Linked DNA regions of Homo sapiens: region 1 is linked to region 2. Evidence: fine-mapped expression QTL. A gene starts in region 2. The other region holds a variant in brackets. All regions are shown on one strand. Distances are between the middles of the regions.

Region 1 (4,396 bases), 67 kb before region 2:
TTTCTATATGTCACCTCATGCAATCATTCATCCAGTAAATAACTATTAGATAATTCACCATGCATTATATCTAATGTGCTGAGTAAATAACAAGCACATCACTGCTATCATAGACTATAGAAGGATAAGGAGAAATTAAATGAAGAGTTATTGTATGTTGAATGCTATAAAGATCTATAGGACATATATCTTTTACATGTGATAGAGGATTTCCTGAATGCTAAAACAGATCTAAAGAATGAATAGAAGCCATCTAGACAAAGAGAGGGGAGGCAGAAATTCTAGGTAGAAAAAAAAAGAACATGTGAAAAACCACTCAGAAGATGGTATCTATTAATTCAAGGAATCACTAGTTCAGTGTGGTGGAGCAGAGAGAGTAAGGGGAAGGACACTCAAATGAGGGTGGAGAGTTAGGAAGGGGAGTGGATAGTTCAGACTCTTTAAAGCCTTATTGAGGATGCTGGACTCTACCCAACAGTAGGGAAAAGTCAGCAGCAGCTTTTAAGAAGAGTGATAAAATAATCAGATGTGGATTTGATCCATTACTGTAACCCTAAAATAGAGAATGGATTGGAGAAGAGCACAAGTAGGTTTGAGGAAGTGTAGGGAGGTTATCGGAATAGTCTCAGCAAGTGCTTTTGATAGATTGGACTAGGGCTGTAACCATGGGGATGGAGAGAAGTAGATTGATTTGAATGTTATTAAAGAGGCAACATTGCTGGACTTGGTGATTGGTTGTGGGGAATAAGGGAGAAGAAGGAATCAAGTGGGCTCTAAGGTTTCTAGATTGAGCCACCGTATATAGATGATTGTGCTATTTCCAGGGGTGATTTGATTTTTATATTACTGATTAATATTTAGAGTTACATGGCTCCTTTGTTTAATGTGCTCAAGACGTATATAATAAGAATAAATGTCATGTTATTTCAAAACTAGGATATCAAACTTATAAAATTCATGTTTAAAATAATTTCTGGAATTCTAAAGAAATACAAGTTGTAAAAAAAAAAAATGTCGGCCGGGCGCGGTGGCTCACGCCTGTAATCCCAGCACTTTGGGAGGCCGAGGCGGGCAGATCACAAGGTCAGGAGATCGAGACCATCCTGGCGAACACGGTGAAAGCCCGTCTCTACTCAAAAAAAAAAAAACAAAAAAAACAAAAAACTTAGCCAGGCTTGGTGGTGGGCGCCTGTAGTTCCATCTACTCAGGAGGCTGAGGCAGGAGAATGGCGTGAACCTGGGAGGTGGAGCTTGCAGTGAGCCGAGATTGCGCCACTGCACTCCAGCCTGGGTGACAGAGCAAGACTCTGTCAAAAAAAAAAAAAAAAAAGTCATAATAATGAAGAGACATATCAGACTAGGACACCTGCAGTAATAATTACTCCTACTGCTATCAAATTCTGCCTATGTTTGCTGCTTAAAGGAAGCTTTTGCCCTTTCCTCTCTGTTTTCTGATCCTAGTAAGATTCACATCCTCCTGCATTTTACATATGTAATGCTTTAGAAATTAAAAATAGAATCTGCAAGCTGCAGAAATTCTAATTGAACATTTTAATAACTTCTTTTCTTTGGATTAATCAACTTTCCAAAGCATGAGCTATTTTTAGCATCAGTTACACTTCTACCTTTGTGCCCAATTCTAATTCTCTTCACATCACAGAGGATCTCTTTACAGCACTCTCTTTGAAATCAATCAGCGCTTTCAGGAGTTATGCAGTGGAGGATGAGAATTGGGTCATGGCGGACATTCTCCCTCACATAAGGCTGAATTCTTTCACTTCCAGGTGCAAAGACAGAGTTAGATAATTACCAGTTAAAGAGCAAAAAGAAGACCATTAGAGTAAACCCTTCCTTACCCCCCACCCCGCCAAAAAAAACAAAAAAAAAACACACAAAAAAAACAAAAACTTACCTTGGTAATGCTATTTCAGATTGGTCACGTTGTTGTTCTGTTTCCAGAATTTTAACTTCACCAAGAAACAAATTACACTGAATAAATTTGCTATTAAAATTCCTGGTCTGCAAAATGGGAAGCAATATCTAATGCAACCTCCTCATACCCAACTTAACACTTAGATTCCTGGGAAGATCCTGAAAAGACCAGGAGGCAATCTACTGCCTGACAGATAATCTACTTGCAGGAACTTTAGACATTTCTATTAATTGTATGTTTGATGGAATTTGGAGTAAGGTAACAATAGTGATTTGCCCTCCCCCTTCCTTTTTAAGAGGAAGAGAGTCAACACACTACCTGAAAGAAGGTTGTGAGATCTTTCATCCTTCCCCCACTGCCAATCTGTTCATTAGAGTTTCAGGTTCTATATTAGTCCATTTGTGTTGCTATAAAGGAATACCTGAGACTGGGTAATTTATAGGGGAAAAAGTTATTCGGCTCATGATTCTGATTGGCTGGAAGAGTAGTCATCTGGTGAGGGCCTCAGGCTGCTTCCACTCATGGTGGAAGGGGAAGGGGGTCTGGCAGATGTGGAAATCAC[G/A]GAGATGCCAGGATCTTCTTAACAACCAGATATCCTGGGAACTGAAAGAGTGGGAACTCACTCACTTCCCCATCCAGGGAGGGTATTTATCTCTTCACAACGGATCCACCCCCATGACCCAAACACCTCCCATTAGGCCCCACCTCCAACATTGGGGATCAAATTTCAACACAAGATTTGGAGGAGACAAACATCCAAACTATAATGCATATCGACCAGAAAAGAGGAAAATCATGTCTTTTCTTCATTCATATTGATTTTGAAGTTGTCAGAAGGCTACTCTTCTAGCCTTTCTCCCAACTCCCATTATTCAAATAAAGTGAGGTAGATGGGATCAGGGTAGACCAGAGCAATAAATAATTCAGGGGAAAGGCTAGGCATGGTGGCTCACACCTGTAATCTGAGCATTTTGGGAGGCTCACGTGGGCAAATCCCTTGAGCTCAGGAGTTCGAGAACAGCCTGGGCAATATGGTGAAACCCCGTCTCTACAAAAAATTTGCTGGGCGTGATAGAACATGCCTGTAGTCCCCCGCTACTTAGGAGGCTGAGTGGGAAGCTCATCTGAGCTTGAGAGGCGGAGGTTGCAGTAAGCCTAGATTGCAGCATTGCACTCCAACCTGGGTGGCAGAGTGAGACCCTGTCTCAAAAAAGAAAAAAAAATTAAGGGGAAATTTTAAGTGCATATACTTCGTATTTCATATGTTCATCTTTTTAGGAAACCAGGTAGGATATGCAGAATATTTATCATCCCATAAAAAGAGTCCATGAGAGGAATATTTGGAGACAGTAATAAAACTTAGATCTTAACTAGTTTTTCACACAGATACAATTTCTTATTTATCCACTACCCCTCTACCTATTGAAGCCACTGAGGTCCTTAATGCCTTAGCCTTTTAGGCTGGGCATGGTGGCTCACGACTGTAATCCTAGTACTTTGGGAGGCCGAGGCGGGCAGATCACCTGAGGTCAGGAGTTTGAGACCAGCCTGGTCAACGTGGTGAAATCCCGTCTCTACCAAAAATAAAAAAATTAGCCGGGCGTGGTGGCGAAAGCCTGTCATCCCAGCTACTTGGGAGGCTGAGGCAGGAGAATCGCTTGAACCTGGGAGGCAGAGGTTGCAGTGAGCCGGGATAGTGCCACTGCACTCCAGCTGGGGCAACTCTGTCTAAAAAAAAAAAAAAAAAAAAAAAAAAGCCTTTCAATTGCCTCTGAAAAGAGAGGGCACTACAATCCCAGATGAAAGAATTCTGAATGAATTCTTACGAAAAAACATACCAGAAAGAATGCCTTCCACTACAAGAGAAAGAAAAATTATTTTGATTTTCCAAAGTAAATAAATTCCTATAAGGATAGAAGTTTTGACTATCCTGAGATAAAGCTCGAAGCAAGAAAATGTAATGTTGGACTGGAAAGTCAGTAGAGGAAGAGTCCATTTCTGACTCTCCTCACTACACACATCTTCTCCTTTGGTAGCACAGAAAAGAGATAATAAACCTCCTTTATGGTTTAGGGGAAAGGGTTTAAAGATTGGAAGAGGAGAGTAAGAATGTTCCCATGTGGACAGAGAGTGGGATCCTGCCTTTGTCCCTCCCAAGGTCAAAATAGAGGTTGTGTTTATTCTATATCTGCAAATAAATTTGAGAATTGAAGAGCAGGAGTGCCCTACTTCTTATCTGGATTGTTGAGAAGGGGAACTTAGGCAGAACATTGCAATCATAATGCAGGAAACATGCATGCAAGGGCAGTTAGAGAGAGAGACAGAGACTCTCACCCCTATCCGTTACCATTGTAAGGTATCAGCTGCCAGCGGTGAATCCATATGGGTCTTCAGCAATCTCAGTTCTTGCCTCCTCAGAAGAAAGAATTCAACCCAGTGACATAAGGCAGAAAAAGAGACTAA
Region 2 (4,396 bases):
CAGTGTTAAGATGGTTGTCACCACACAAATAATATCTATTTGTTCACTGTAAATTTTCTCCAGGGTCCCTTCCCACCTTCAAATGCATTATTTTATTTTATTTTATTATTTTATTTTATTTTATTTTATTTTATTTTATTTTATTTTATTTTATTTTATTTTATTTTATTTTATTTTTTGAGGCGGAGTCTCGCTCTGTCGCCCAGGCTGGAGTGCGGTGGCGCAATCTCCGCTCACTGCAAACTCCGCCTCCTGGGTTCACGCCATTCTCCTGCCTCAGCTTTCTGAGTAGCTGGGACTGCAGGCGCCCAACACCATGCCCGGCTAATTTTTTGTATTTTTTGTATTTTTTTTTTTTTTTTTTTTTTTGAGTAGAGACGAGGTTTCACCGTGTTAGCCAGGATGGTCTCGATCTCCTGACCTTGTGATCCGCCTGCCTCGCCTGCCAAAGTGCTGGGATTACAGGCATGAGCCACCTCGCCCGGCCCCCACCTTCAAATGCATTAATCGGATTCCTTCAGTATTATGAAGAAAACATTATGAAGAGCCTTACCTGATGATAGTAATAACAACCGTAACCACTAAGTAGAGTCTATATTTATTAATAGCAATGTCATCTTCTCTAACAGTTGTCCAGTGTCCCAAGCCTGTCATAAGCTCTTTGAAGCTCTGTGAGAATGAGAGTTGTGTCTTATGCTCAGCACTTAAGATGGCTACTTAATTCAGATAGAAGAAGAATGTGGCTATTTGCAGGCAGAAGGCAACTTGATTCCTCACATGGTACTATATACTAAGACACCCTACACTCCCAGTTTTACACGTGGTAGTTCTAGCACGTTCCTTCATTTAAGGAGTCTCTTGAATTCCAAAATTTCCAGATTCCACCTGAATAAATGGCAGAGATGGCAACTGGACACAAAGTTATTTTACCCTGTTCCCTTCACATAAAAGGCAGGCTTGGGATCACTTAGGTTTGGGGGCATAAACATCCTCTCAGTGTCTGAGTACTAAAGAAATGATAAACTACTATCAATAGAAAAGTAACAGATCACTTAATTATCAATCAGTCTAATGGTGATTATTTTAAGACTTTTGCCACAAACTGAACTGCCCCAAAGCAAATCTCTCATGCAGTTTGGCCTTAATTTCTTTTACCCTTTTTTTTTTTTTGAGAGGTTATTATGCAGTGCTTTCCCGTTTAAAACACTGTTTCTACCAGGGAATATTAGGGGGTCTTCTGCATTACAGACTAAGCAATTCCGTCTTTTCTCAAGAAAAACTGCCATGTTACATCTGGACAAAAATGGAAACTTTAAAAAAAAACCTCACATCGTTTTATTTTCCTTTCTGTGTGTGTATTTTTTCCCACATAAGTATCTTATTATTTCCTAATCGAAGCTCATTCTTCTCTATGAGGCGCTGGCTTGGTATTTTCGCCTGACAAATCTCCCGGAGCAGATGGTCCCTTCAGGGAAGCTTCAGGAAAGTGCTGGGTGTCTAGTTATGCCTGGACCCTCCCTCCCTCTTGGGGCCCCAAATGACAAGTCATCAAACCAGTTTCTCTCCAGCAAGGGTCCTTGATCCGGTAGCAGCAGGTTTGGGTTTCAGGCACTGCAGAGACCCTTTGCAGTTGGGTTTAGCAGCTACCCAAGTCTGCAGCCTGCGCTGGTCCTGGGGGTGAGAGTGATATCCCTGTTGTCCAATCAGAGAAGCGGGTTTCCCTGTGGTCCCCGCCCCACTTTCCCTGCTGCCCCAATAACCGCCCTAAAAGGCCGGGCTTCTGCTGTCAAGTAGCCAGGGTGGGCTCCGCCGAGGCGAGGAGGGGCGCCGGTGGGGAGATGCGCTCCCAGGTGTTTGCAGCGGAAGTGGGAAACCTGTAGGGTATGGTCCAGCTGTGCCGCACCGAGGCGAGCAGGAGCAGGGAACAGGTAGGAAGCTGGACTTTTCCTTCTTTGCAGATAAAATAAAGAATGCGCATTTCCATGCTGTTGCTTCCCTTCCCCCAGCCCCGCCCAGCCCTCGTCACCCCCAAATCTCCTGTGGTCCCTGCAGCTCTCGCCGTGCGGCGCGGGAAGGACTGGGGCGGAGGTGGCTGGGGTGCGGGGAAGCAGGGGTGCGGGATGCCGGAGCCCTGGGGTGCCGGGCAAGGCAGGACGGCAGTGCCCTAGAAGAGGGCTCCGAGCTCGGGGTCTGTGTCTCGTCAACTTTCCTTTCGGAGGCTGCCGCCGCCAGCGCCGGGAACTCGCCCCAGGGATGCCATATCGCCTCGGCAGGGGAGGGGTGGGGAAGCAGAGAGGTCGGCAGCCCGGGGCCTGCAGGTCTTTTTCTCCCGACGCCGGCCCGCACCTGCTCATCTTTCCCATCCCACCTGGGCGCCTGGCTAGCGCATCCCGGAAAACCTGGGAGCGGTTGCGGAGAGGGGAGGAAGCGACTTGTTTGTCCCCTGACCCCTCTGTTAAGATCTAGCTCCCTTCAGGAGATGGGGGTGGGGAAGAATCCCTGCAACTCGAAGGGCACGTTCCGATTAATTACGTCTCCGTTGAGAAGGCACCGGCCCTTCTCCACGATCTGCGGCAGGTGGGAGGGAGAGACCGCGGAGCCACGGCCCCTTCCCTCCTAGCCTGGCGCTGTCTACGGGAACCACCTTCACACCTAGTTTCTGAAAGGTGGATTTGGCTTCAGGGATTTCCAGGGAGTCAAGTGATTGTGCCCGGATGGGCTCCGAGCGGCTGCGAGGCTGCCTCCCTAGGTGACCGCATCTGGGTAGTAGGTGTTGGCCCAGTGCCGGTTCCTGCAGGAGTCAGATTGCTGGGAGCAGTAGGCAGAAGAATTGCAGAGAGATCCGACGCTGCATCACCCTCTGGGACTGATGACACCCTGCTTTGAAAATTCCTGAAAAATTGGGATGATGGGAAAGAGGGAAAGCGGATAGCTGCGACCTTTCCTTATTTATTTATTTATTTTCATGCCAAACCGGGCATGGGTATTCGTACGTGTGCTTGTGTGTGCACATCTCCAAGGTGGAGCTATATATAGCTCCTGCATACCCAGCCCGGCTTCCCTGCTGCTGAGCCGGCTGCCTTGGCCTTCTCAAGCAATCTGGAAGCACTGAGTGGGCGGGGCAAAAGGGAATCCAATTCTCCATTGGGGGAAAAGCCGGAGAAGAAGCATTCAGACTGCTGAAACCCTGCGTGAAATAATGTTTTTGTAACTCACGTAAAGATCAATATTTCATATTTCATGTTTTCAATATGTCATATTTCATGTTTTCAATATTTCAGTATTTTGCAAACATTCTTAGAGTGCCAATATAATCTTCATCCATTTCGCCGCATTTTTCGGTTTCTAAGTGTACATATGAACCTTACCAGCCCGAAGTGTAACGCAAATCAAATTAATACATGCCGTATCTGGGATATTTTATTAGACTCGGCATAATGGTTTGGTTATTTGGTAGTAAATTTATTTCAGTGGTAACTTATGGCTAACAGCATTTGGGGATCTGGGAATGGATCCACCCACTTTCCAGGACTAAGGAACTGCTAGAACCCTTGCGGGGGTAGATGTGAGGTATTTCTTTGTACAGATTTTACATGTGGACCTGATATTTAAATTTGTACTGCTTTTTCATATCACATCTATTTGTACTATGTGAACTTTCTTTTATAGATTGATGTATGTGCATTTATCTTTGCCATTCCCTGAAATTACTTATTCCTGATGACAACCTTTCCATTTTCACAGATGAAGAAACTAAGATTCAGAAGACACAAGTGATTGGTTGAAAGTCTTCTGAAAACTTTAATATTCCAACAACCTGCCGTGTAATTATACTGCATAGCAGTTTCCCCTCAAATAGAATACTTTTTAGCTTCCCAGGATTTTTGGTCCTGGCAACAAAATGTGGTTAATGTTGATACCAGGAACAATATAAACCAAGTTTATTCGGTTCTAGTCTGACATGTATCCCTACAAAATTTAATTCTGTGTTTTAAGAACAAAATTCTAACTTGCCAAGTCATTTTGAAGATAAATTATTTAATCTACCAAGTTACCATCATAGGCAGTGCGAGCTGGCTTTTAATTTTGCTCTGCAACTTCCTGATGATCTGATTTGGAGCAAGATAATTAAACTCTGAGAATCTGTTTTCTTGTCTTCAAAAGGAATTTTATAGCATTGAAATTTCAGGTTGCTATGAGGGCCATAAAAAGCATGCATGTTTCTATCATGGGGATGGGCGCATAGTGGGTCATTAATAAACAGGGCTACTGGTAATAATAACAATACATAGGTATGTATCAACTAAATGCATTTTAAAATTCATGGTTCTAACAAAACGATCACTCCTCTTCAGAATCTCTAGTAGACTATTTTCACTTGGGAACTTAATCATAC

The links. PIP is the estimated chance that this variant, and not a neighbour inherited with it, causes the effect.
Region 1: its variant is the best candidate, but not a certain one, in a credible set for the expression of CNTN1 in aorta (GTEx, PIP 0.71).

Annotation. Positions count from the first base shown.
Region 1 is chr12:40,623,540-40,627,935 of GRCh38, forward strand. No RefSeq gene overlaps it. Among named protein-coding and RNA genes, the nearest start is that of CNTN1, 67 kb to the right of the region's middle. The variant G/A (reference allele first, on the strand shown) is at 2,496.
Region 2 is chr12:40,690,665-40,695,060 of GRCh38, forward strand. CNTN1 (contactin 1) reads left to right here and starts at 1,775. Exons shown (of 24, transcript NM_001843.4): 1 at 1,775-1,928.